3 separate regions of the Homo sapiens genome follow, and regions 2 and 3 are each reported to be linked to region 1. Evidence: microRNA targets listed by miRTarBase, many of them from high-throughput screens and not tested one by one. Region 1 holds a microRNA gene; each other region holds the end of a gene's coding sequence.

What was found. Region 1 holds the annotated microRNA hsa-miR-378j (ACUGGAUUUGGAGCCAGAA, at 1,937-1,955, shown strand). A microRNA usually pairs through its seed, bases 2 to 8, with sites in the 3' UTR of a target mRNA and lowers its output. Matches are read on the target gene's strand: a 7mer-m8 pairs with bases 2 to 8, a 7mer-A1 pairs with bases 2 to 7 and ends in A, and an 8mer does both.
Region 2: miRTarBase lists LMTK2 as a target of hsa-miR-378j. Seed matches in the 3' UTR shown: 8mer at 2,329-2,336.
Region 3: miRTarBase lists CLMN as a target of hsa-miR-378j. Seed matches in the 3' UTR shown: 7mer-m8 at 796-802.

The regions. Positions count from the first base shown.
Region 1 is chr17:37,613,956-37,616,955 of GRCh38, reverse strand. It overlaps MIR378J (microRNA 378j), which reads left to right and starts at 1,917; the gene lies at 1,917-2,025. DDX52 (DExD-box helicase 52) reads left to right here. Exons shown (of 15, transcript NM_007010.5): 15 at 2,603-3,000. The coding sequence ends at 2,660.
Region 2 is chr7:98,204,946-98,207,945 of GRCh38, reverse strand. It overlaps LMTK2 (lemur tyrosine kinase 2), which reads right to left. Exons shown (of 14, transcript NM_014916.4): 14 at 1-2,482. The coding sequence ends at 2,454. Among named protein-coding and RNA genes, the nearest start is that of BHLHA15, 5.0 kb to the left of the region's middle.
Region 3 is chr14:95,188,778-95,191,777 of GRCh38, reverse strand. It overlaps CLMN (calmin), which reads left to right. Exons shown (of 13, transcript NM_024734.4): 13 at 46-3,000. The coding sequence ends at 214. Among named protein-coding and RNA genes, the nearest start is that of DICER1-AS1, 33 kb to the right of the region's middle.

The DNA of each region.
Region 1 (3,000 bases):
TGGAGAAGGGAACAAGATGAATAGAGGCATGAAAATTAGAGTGTGCTTTGTAAATAAGTGAACAAGAGTTTTCACATGTTGGTATTGTCTATGAGGAATAAAAGTCGGTTCAAATATACAGTGTATATATAGTGTCTCAAAATTTTATCATACTTTTAATAACTTGGGAAGGATAAGTGCTACAAACTGAAAAAAGTATATTTGAATAGTCAATCAATCAATAAGTACAAATTCCATTTGTACTTATTCAGTTTTGGGAATGCTTCACAATCACATTTACTTTTTTTTTTTTTGAGATGGAGTCTTGCTCTGCCACCCTGTCGCCCAGGCTGGAGTGCAGTGTCGCAATCTCGGCTCACTGCAACCTCCACCTCCCAGGTTCAAGTGATTCTCGTGCCTCAGCCTCCTGGGTAGCTGGGATTACAGGCACCCGCCACCATGCCTGGCTAATTTTTTTGTATTTTTACTAGAGATGGGGTTTCACCATGTTGGCCAAGATGGTCTCGAACTCTCAAACTCCTGGCCTCATGTGATCTCCCACCTCGGCCTCCCAAAGTGCTGGGATTACAAGTGTGAGCCACTGCACCTGGCCAACATTTTTAAATTTTAATTTTCTGTCGCAACAGTTTCTGGGTGACACTTAGACCAGTGGATTGGTAGCGAACCTTGTTATGCTTGGCCACTTTGGTCACCTAATCTGTCTTAATAGACTTGTTGGTAGGAGAGGAGTGGGTCACATCAGAACTGTTGTGTATGTGTTACTCTTTGGATGGTCTTAAAGCCAAGATAACAAATGCAGTCCTTTCAGGCACTGAGCAGCAACTGATGAAAGTTTTTACAAAGGTCAAAAATCAACTAGAACATAAGATGGTGGCTATGTTGAATTTTAATAAGATACATCAGTATTTTAAATAATTATACTTTAAATGCTGATTTGTTTTTGTTTTGAGATGGAATCTCTGTTGCTAGGCGGGAGTGCAGTGGCACGATCTCGGCTCACTGCAACCTTCACCTCCCGGGTTCAAGTGATTCTCCTGCCTCAGCCTCTTGAGTAGCTGGGATTACAGGCACACACCACCATGCCCAGCTAATTTTTGTATTTTTAGTAGAGACGGGGTTTCACCATGTTGGCCAGGGTGGTCTTGATCTCCTGGCCTTGTGATCCGCCCGCCTCGGCCTCCCAAAGTGCTAAGGCATGACCCACCGCGCCCAGTCTAAATGCTGATTTTTATAAGTTTATAGCATTTATACTTCTGGGGTTTTTTGTTTGTTTTTTGAGACAGGGTCTCAATCTGTCACCCAGACTGGAGTGCAGTGGCACAATCAGGGCTCACTGCAGCCTCGACCTCCTGGGCTCAAGCAGTCCTCCCATCTCAGCCCCCTGAGAAGCTAGGACTACAGGCTTATGCCACCGTGCCTGGCTAATATTGTTTTATTTTTAGTAGAGATGGGGTTTTGCCATATTGCCCAGGCTGGTCTCAAACTCCTGGACTCAAGCGATCTGCCTACCTCTGCCTCCCAACATGGTGGGATTACAGGCATGAGCCACTGCACCTGCCTTCTTCTGAGGTTATTAAAACTTAATTTGTACTAAGACTTCGAAGACACTTGATATAAATCTTGTCATATCAGCCCCCTGCTTAAGGTGCTTTGGTTGTGTCTCCATTTTCTTCATATGTAAAGGCCATACTACTTAACATAGCATACAAGCAAGACCCATCATGATCCAACTCTGGCTTACCTCTATGCTATAGATGTTTCCTTAATGATCCCACCCATGCCTATAGGCTCAGCTCATATTTCTGTGCTGATCGCTCTTAAGGTTGTTATCTTCAGCCCCAACTTCCCCATTGAGCTACAAACCTGAATCCTTGCTGCCTAGTGGACCTCACTTCAGGCATCACAAACTCAGCCCCATGCAGTGAGTCGGGGAGGAACTGGATTTGGAGCCAGAAGAACTGGTTCTAATATCTACTTCCCTGTGTAGAGTTGGGATTTGGGATTATATGAGTTAATATACACCAAAGAACTTTGTATTACTATAATAATAGTTTGCAAACATTGATTATTTTCTCAAAACTTTTTTCCTTTGTCTGTTACCACTTAGTTAATGACATTCAACCTTCACTAGGCTATAGGATCAGACTGATAGGATTCGTGTCTAACATGGATTACCAGTGAGTGATGACTGGCAAGTCAACCACTCTGTGCCTCATTTTCCTCATCTGTAAACGGAGGATAATAATACAATACTCCTCATAAGTTGTTAGGAAAATTACCCGAGTTAATACATGTAAAGCACTTAGTAACCGTTTCTAGCATGCAGTAAGCACTGAATCATTGTGAACTCATTAGGTCAGGATCCGAACCTATGTGTCATACCATGTAGTAATGTAGTTTACTGTGATGGTTCTGCCTCACTTAGGTGATTGTGATTTTCTAAAGGGCAGAGACCATGTCTAATGCATCTTTGTGTTCCTAGTGCCTCATTATTTGATACACAGTAGGTTTCAGTAAATGTTTATTAAACTGGTGGTAGGGTTATGGAAAGTAAATATACGTAGAATTTTTTATTCAATTTTTCTTACTTTGCTCTTTACAGGAAAAAGGTCACTGGTCAGAACAGCAAGAAGAAAGTAGCTCTTGAAGACAAAAGTTAAAAACAGACTTTAAAAATACTGTCCCAGAAATGTAATTTTATGATCCCAGCATGAATGTTATTTTCATGGAATACTTGAAGTCTTACAGTCACCTGTACCAAACATTTGAAATCAACTACAAGTACATGGGACTGGTGATAAATGATCCTAAACTATCAAGTCAGTTTCAATTTGTAGGTGCCTTTTTTTTTTCCTGTAGAGATGAGGGTCTTGCCATGTTGTCCAGGCTGGTCTTGAACTCCTGACCTCACACAATCCTCCTGCCTTAGCCTCCTGAGTAACTGAGATTACAGGCACAAGCTGCTGCACCCAGCTCTGTAGGTGACTTTTAAATGATTAT
Region 2 (3,000 bases), not on the chromosome of region 1:
ATATATATTTTGTATTTTTAGTAGAGACGAGGTTTCGCCATGTTGCCCAGGCTGGTCTTGAACTCCTGGGCTCAAAGTGATCCGTCCGCCTCGACCCCCCAATGTGTTGGGATTGCAGGCGTGAGCCACCGCGCCCGGCCAAAATCTTAATCCTAGTGGAAAACTGACAGCCCCAAAAGGTTAATAAATGTACTCGAGGCTGACACTGTATAAGACGACGACAGATTCCATGATCTGTATGACTTTGGTCATTAAATCTGAACTCCTTAAACCTGCAATTGAAAAAGTAGTATAATCACGTCTCATTTCTCTTCAGCCAAGACTAATCTTAGATGTAAAAACTGAGAAAACTCAGGAAGTCCCCACAGCAAGAATTCAGAGTCATGACAATTTTGGCAAAATCATCTTCTAATGCCCTGTTAATTAAAAAAAAAAAAAAAATTCGCGCATCCCGAGACAGTGGTGCTCCCCACATAGCCCAGGTGGGCACCGCATCCACCCCATGCCTACACAGGAGGGGACTCTCTCCATCCTGAACTTCTTGCTTTGGAAAGTTATTGCTTAGTATAAAAAATGAGAGGAGTAGGGTGGAACTGGCAATGAAGGTCATTTGCTGCGCACTCTCTGGCAACGTCCGCCTGCATTTTGCACTAGGACTCAACTTCCTTCCGTGTACCCCAGGCGGCCCCTGCACGGGTCTGGAGAGCACCCCAGGTTGCGCTGGAGTCTGGAAACATATCAGCACCGGAAAATATGTTGGGTGAAGGGTGAGTATGAGGGGACTGCAGGCCCAAGGACCCCCGAAGGAACGGCTGCCTCCCCAGCACAGCACAGCCGCGCTGCACCAGCCACCGAGGACTTCCTTATGTCAGAGCAGAACTCAGGGAGGGAGGTGTGAGGTCGCCCATGACCACAGGGGCTCGTGACGATGTGACGAAGCTACACTGGGAGCACTCGGGCCCTTTCAAAGCCAGAAGAGAACCTGGGGCTTAATGCAGAACGGAGGGTCCGTGAGATGAGTCCCGGGCCATGCAGGACCACCCAAGGCCCCGACCCGAACTATGTGTCGGCTGCTGATGCTCTGCCGTCGGCCGTCGTCCCTTGTCCATCCCCCTTCACAGCTGCAGGATGTGGTGTTATCTCATCCCACATGGATAACCACAGACTGGCCAGGCCCAGCTGGACGTGACGTGGAGTGGCTCGGAGGAGAAGATTCGGCTGTGGAGGTTTTTTTAAAGCTCAAGTCCCCACCACCTGAAGTGTGCACACATCATCAAGTCGAACGGTCCCCCACGGCTGGTATGCTCTGCGGAGATGAGTCTGCCTGAGTTCCCCGGCTTCTTGAAGGAAGGACTGACAGGAACACGGAAGCTTCCCAGCAGCCTGGCCTCCGAAAACCAGGCAGAAGAGCTGCGCGGAGGGAAGCGGTGCGGTGCCCCGTGCAGGGTGCAGCTCTCTGGACCTGCCACGCCAGCACGTCCCCAGGGATGGGCCGGGTCCATCTGAGGTCTGCGGCCACAACCTGTTGGTTTTTACCAAAAGGGCTTTAAAAAATGGGATGTGGGGTGGGAGAATGACAAGGAGAGGCTGCAAGACCTCTCAGCTCCTCAGAGAGAAGCCTCATTTGCTGCGGCAAAGCCGCTTCATCAAGAAGAGACAAAAATGCATTCAAGTCCATCAACAAAACAGTGGTATTTTGGACTCAATGAAAATATTTCCTATATGAACATAAAACACTAACATTCAGAATCATTTATCATTTATGAAAGAGTACCATATGTACAATCCCAACAATCCTAGACACAGTAGAACACTCAAAATATTTAAGCTTCACAAGTACCATGCAGCGCAAACTATAAAACAGAAAAAAAATCAAACTAGTGGCTAGCATCGGCTTGACCTGCCTCATTCCCCTCGAATAACTGAAGATCCTGTACAACAATGGAGACTCTCGGAACATTTATCCACAGTGCAATTACAGAAAGCAGTTCGTGATTTCTCTAGAAATAATAAATATGGCTCACTGGTGACCATTCCCCTCACGTGTCCTCTGTGGTGCCCACACGTGCGCCGGGATGTGCAGGCGTGGACGCAGAGACGCCCCTGTGGAAAGCACACATGCGGTGCACACAGCTCCACACGCGCGCGCACATGGAGGCTGTGCCCCTGCCTCCCCCGACGGCCAGCGCATGAGCACTGCCTGGGAGGCCGCGGCCGCGGGTGCACGGGGCACTGAGGGACGCCGGCTCCTGGACACGGCCTCGCTCTGCACCTGGGCTCCCGAGGGCCCCGCCTTGAACGCAGCTAAGAGCCGTCTCCCTCTTCACCTCTGGATTCTTCCTCCCAATCTCATGTCAGCAAATGGCGAGTGGATGTCGCTGCTCGGGCTGAGGGCGCAGGGGCGCCGCTCCAGGGGAGCAGCCTCGGACCCGAGCGTGCGCGTTGGCAGCCACCTAGTCCTTTTCTCCGTCTTCGCTGCTTCCTGTTGAGGAGAGAGGAAGCGAGACGACAAAGCTGGGTTTTTAAAATGATCAGACAGGCATGGCGTGGATGGCATGTGCGCTGCACCACAGGAACGGAAGCGGGTGTTTTGAGCCCAGCACCGCCTGAGCCGCCCTTCCTGTCCTTTCCTTCGGAAGCAGCCCCTGCCTGACTCTCCCACATCTGCTAGGCTCAAATGCCCGCTGGGCGCTAAGGGTCAGGGTGCAGAAGAAGTCAGCTGGGATCCACACATCTGCCCCGACAGACTGGCAGATAGCAGGTGTTATCTAATCGGCACAAATGAAGCCTAGCGCCGAGGGAAATAAAGCCTCTTTGTATTCCATATTTATTATTTGATCTGTAAACTTCCAATCAAAAAATGAGCCTATTAACCTTTATCTTTCAATCTAGTGACGGGGAAAGAAGGCTCCCTATGTTCAGATACCTCGACTTCAAATGGCCCCTGCCCATTCACCCCACCCCGCCCTCGGGAGCCACACCAGGACCAAGACTCAGCAG
Region 3 (3,000 bases), not on the chromosome of region 1:
GGGAACCTGCTTGGTAACTGCGTTTCCTCTGTGTTTCTTCTGTAGGAAGGCCAACAGCTCAGGAGAAGCCATGTCACTGGGGAGCCACAGCCCGCAGAGTGACTCCCTGACACAGCTTGTCCAGCAGCCGGATATGATGTATTTTATTCTCTTCCTGTGGCTCCTGGTGTACTGCTTGCTGCTCTTCCCACAACTGGATGTTAGCAGGCTCTGATACGTGTGTCTGGATAATAAAAAAGACAGGACCCTGACCAGGGGCGGGGTTACTTCATTTTATTTTGGGTTCTGGGTGGGGCACTTCTACAGACAGTTGAGGACCTCCGAGGAAACTTAGACCCCCTTTCTCGCTATTGTGGTTTTTTTTTTTTTTTCAGGTTTCCTTTTTTTTCTGGACAACCTGAGCATGCTTTTTTCTTTGGCTGTGTACTCAAAACTCAGGCATGCAGCTGGATCCGTAGGTGGGGTTTTGTCCTTGTGTGCCTTGCTGGGTTGGATAGGGAGCATTGTTAGTGATCATTAGCCCGCCTGGATCTTAGCACACCCCACATTGCAGGTTCACACGCTGGATGAACTTGAGTTTCTTACCTCTCAGATGAAGGGCTGCTTAATGAGAAAGAGGGTGGGCACCCCAGGCCAAGCCCCAGCTGGGGAGAGAGCTGCCACGTTTTCCTCCAAGCGTGGGTGTTTGAGAGAAGGTGCTGGGGTCCATGCACCTGTCGCAGTCCGGTAACTGGTTGCATTCACTAGGGGAAATCCGAGCAGCCAGCTCTGTGTAAGCACATCCAGGAATGGCAGAATCCAGGGAGGAAGGTGAAAGCTGTGTTGAGAGCCACTGTGTGCTCTTTTTCACCCTGTTTTTTTTGTTGTTTTTTTGTTTTGTTTTTTGTTTGAGGGGAGATAACACTTGAAATTCAGTTTTCCATTGATTGGATTGAGATAGAACCATGATTTTCAAACCAGATCGCCAGGGCCCAGCAGGGCCATATAAAAGCCATGAGGAGTGGCTGGGCTGGAATCAGCTCCCAGCAGTGCTGGAGCTGGGTGGTGGGGTAGCTTCCTGCCCACTAAAGCTTTGGTGCACACCTCCCTCAGAATGCATGTCTTGGAACGGGCATTCTTTGTGGTCACTTGTAATGGGTTTCTTGAAGAGGCTTTCTGGACAGCACTCCGGGAGCAGGCCAGCACAGGAGGTTTGTGAAAGAAGAGAGGCATCTCTAGCACCCCTGCCCCCAGTCTTCCTCAGCCCCAGGCTCCCTCTGCTCTCTCCTCCCTGCCAAGACTCAGGTCCGTGGTGAGTCTCTGCATTGGTTCCTCCTCCCCTTGCTCTCCCCTTCAGAAAGCATGTACCAGGCAACCCTTATAAAATCACAAATGAGTCAGGAGGGGACTCAGTGAGCATCTTGTCTAGCTGGACCCAGAGAGACAGAGCAGCTTGACCAAGATCATATAGCCGACCAGGGGCAGACTTGCAGTGAGCACACAGGCACCTGATGCCCTGTCCAGAGCTGTCACCCCTTGTAGGAAACTTCCACTGGGCACACCAATGTCCTGAGAAAAAGATAAAATGACTAGATTAAAATGTCCACATTCAAGCAAAACCAAAAAGTTTAGACCAACTATCGACATTTGTTTTGTTCTTGTATTTTTCCCATGAGGAATTCTTACTCACCTTCAAGCTCATCCCCAATTCCTTCTGAAATACCCTTGACAGCTGCAACAGCTTGTCATTTGACATACCAGCGTCGCTCTTACTCCAGGAATCACGTTTCTTTCTTTGCTAGCCAAGGACTTGCTCATTTCAAGCAGTGGGTTTCAAGTTTACAGAATTCCAGCATGGCCAGAAGAATTTACATAGCACATCTGAGTCGATGACAGCCAAAATCTGGCCTCTAAACCAGTCTGATTATAGTCTGTCTCCCCTCCTGAAAGAATTTCAGCCTTCCAACCAGAAAGCTGCTGGGAGCTTGGAGTGATTCCATCTGGAAGGCCAAGAGCCCCATGGAAAATGAGCTAATTAATGAGCTCCCTGGCATCAATGAAAGCTCAAAGGTACAGATAATAAAGATTATGTGATAGTTTATAACTCTGGGCACCATGCAGTCCTTGCCTAAATTAGATGCTCGAAGAGCCTGGGAAGAGCCAACCCAAATGTGAATCATTTCATTTTATGGGTCTAGACCTTGTTCAGAAAAACCTCTGCAAGATACTTCTCTCACCTATTACAACTTGTAATATTGTTTAAAACATCTACTGGCAAGATGCCTGAAAGTCATTTGGTTCAGGTTGGCAGTCAACTGATATTTTGCAAAGGAAAAAAAAATCTCATTTGAGTATAGGCTTCTATGGAAGAAGCTGGATATAGAAAATGGATGTGGAAGTCTGCAGGACAAACCACCCCATTGCTTGTAAATTTTTTTTAAATTAAAAGAAATACAATAAGGCTTTTAACAAGAACTAGCAGTCCCCTAAGTCTCGCTGCTTAGAAGTAACCACTTTCAACTCTCTTATGTTTGCATTTCTACATAACGTGCTTACACTTTATTTTTTAATTTAGAAACATCTACTGGCTTGCTGTCACAGTAGAGGAGGATTTCACTCTTACCATACCGTGCTTTGGTTTTCCAGTATAGCTAGATCACATCATTTAGTACATTTCTATTAGGTGTTGACATTACCTGGAGCACTTAAGGATTGTTGACTCCCAAGCCCAGCAGTGTGTTATGGTTACATGTCCTTTCTCCTCCAAATGTCCCCATTAATTTGCTATTCTCTCTCTTTACTTTTTTTTTTTTTTTGGTGTGGCACATTCTTTAATAACTTCCTGAGGAAGAGAACATGGGAAGTAAATATGGTTGTAAATATTTTGAGATTTTTGCATGACTTAAGATGTCTGTATTCTGCCCTTAACAGAAATGTGGCTGAGCATAGAATGACAGGTGGAAAATAATACCCTCCCCTAGCCCCTCCCAAGCGTGCTGGTTGAGATTTCTGATGCCATTC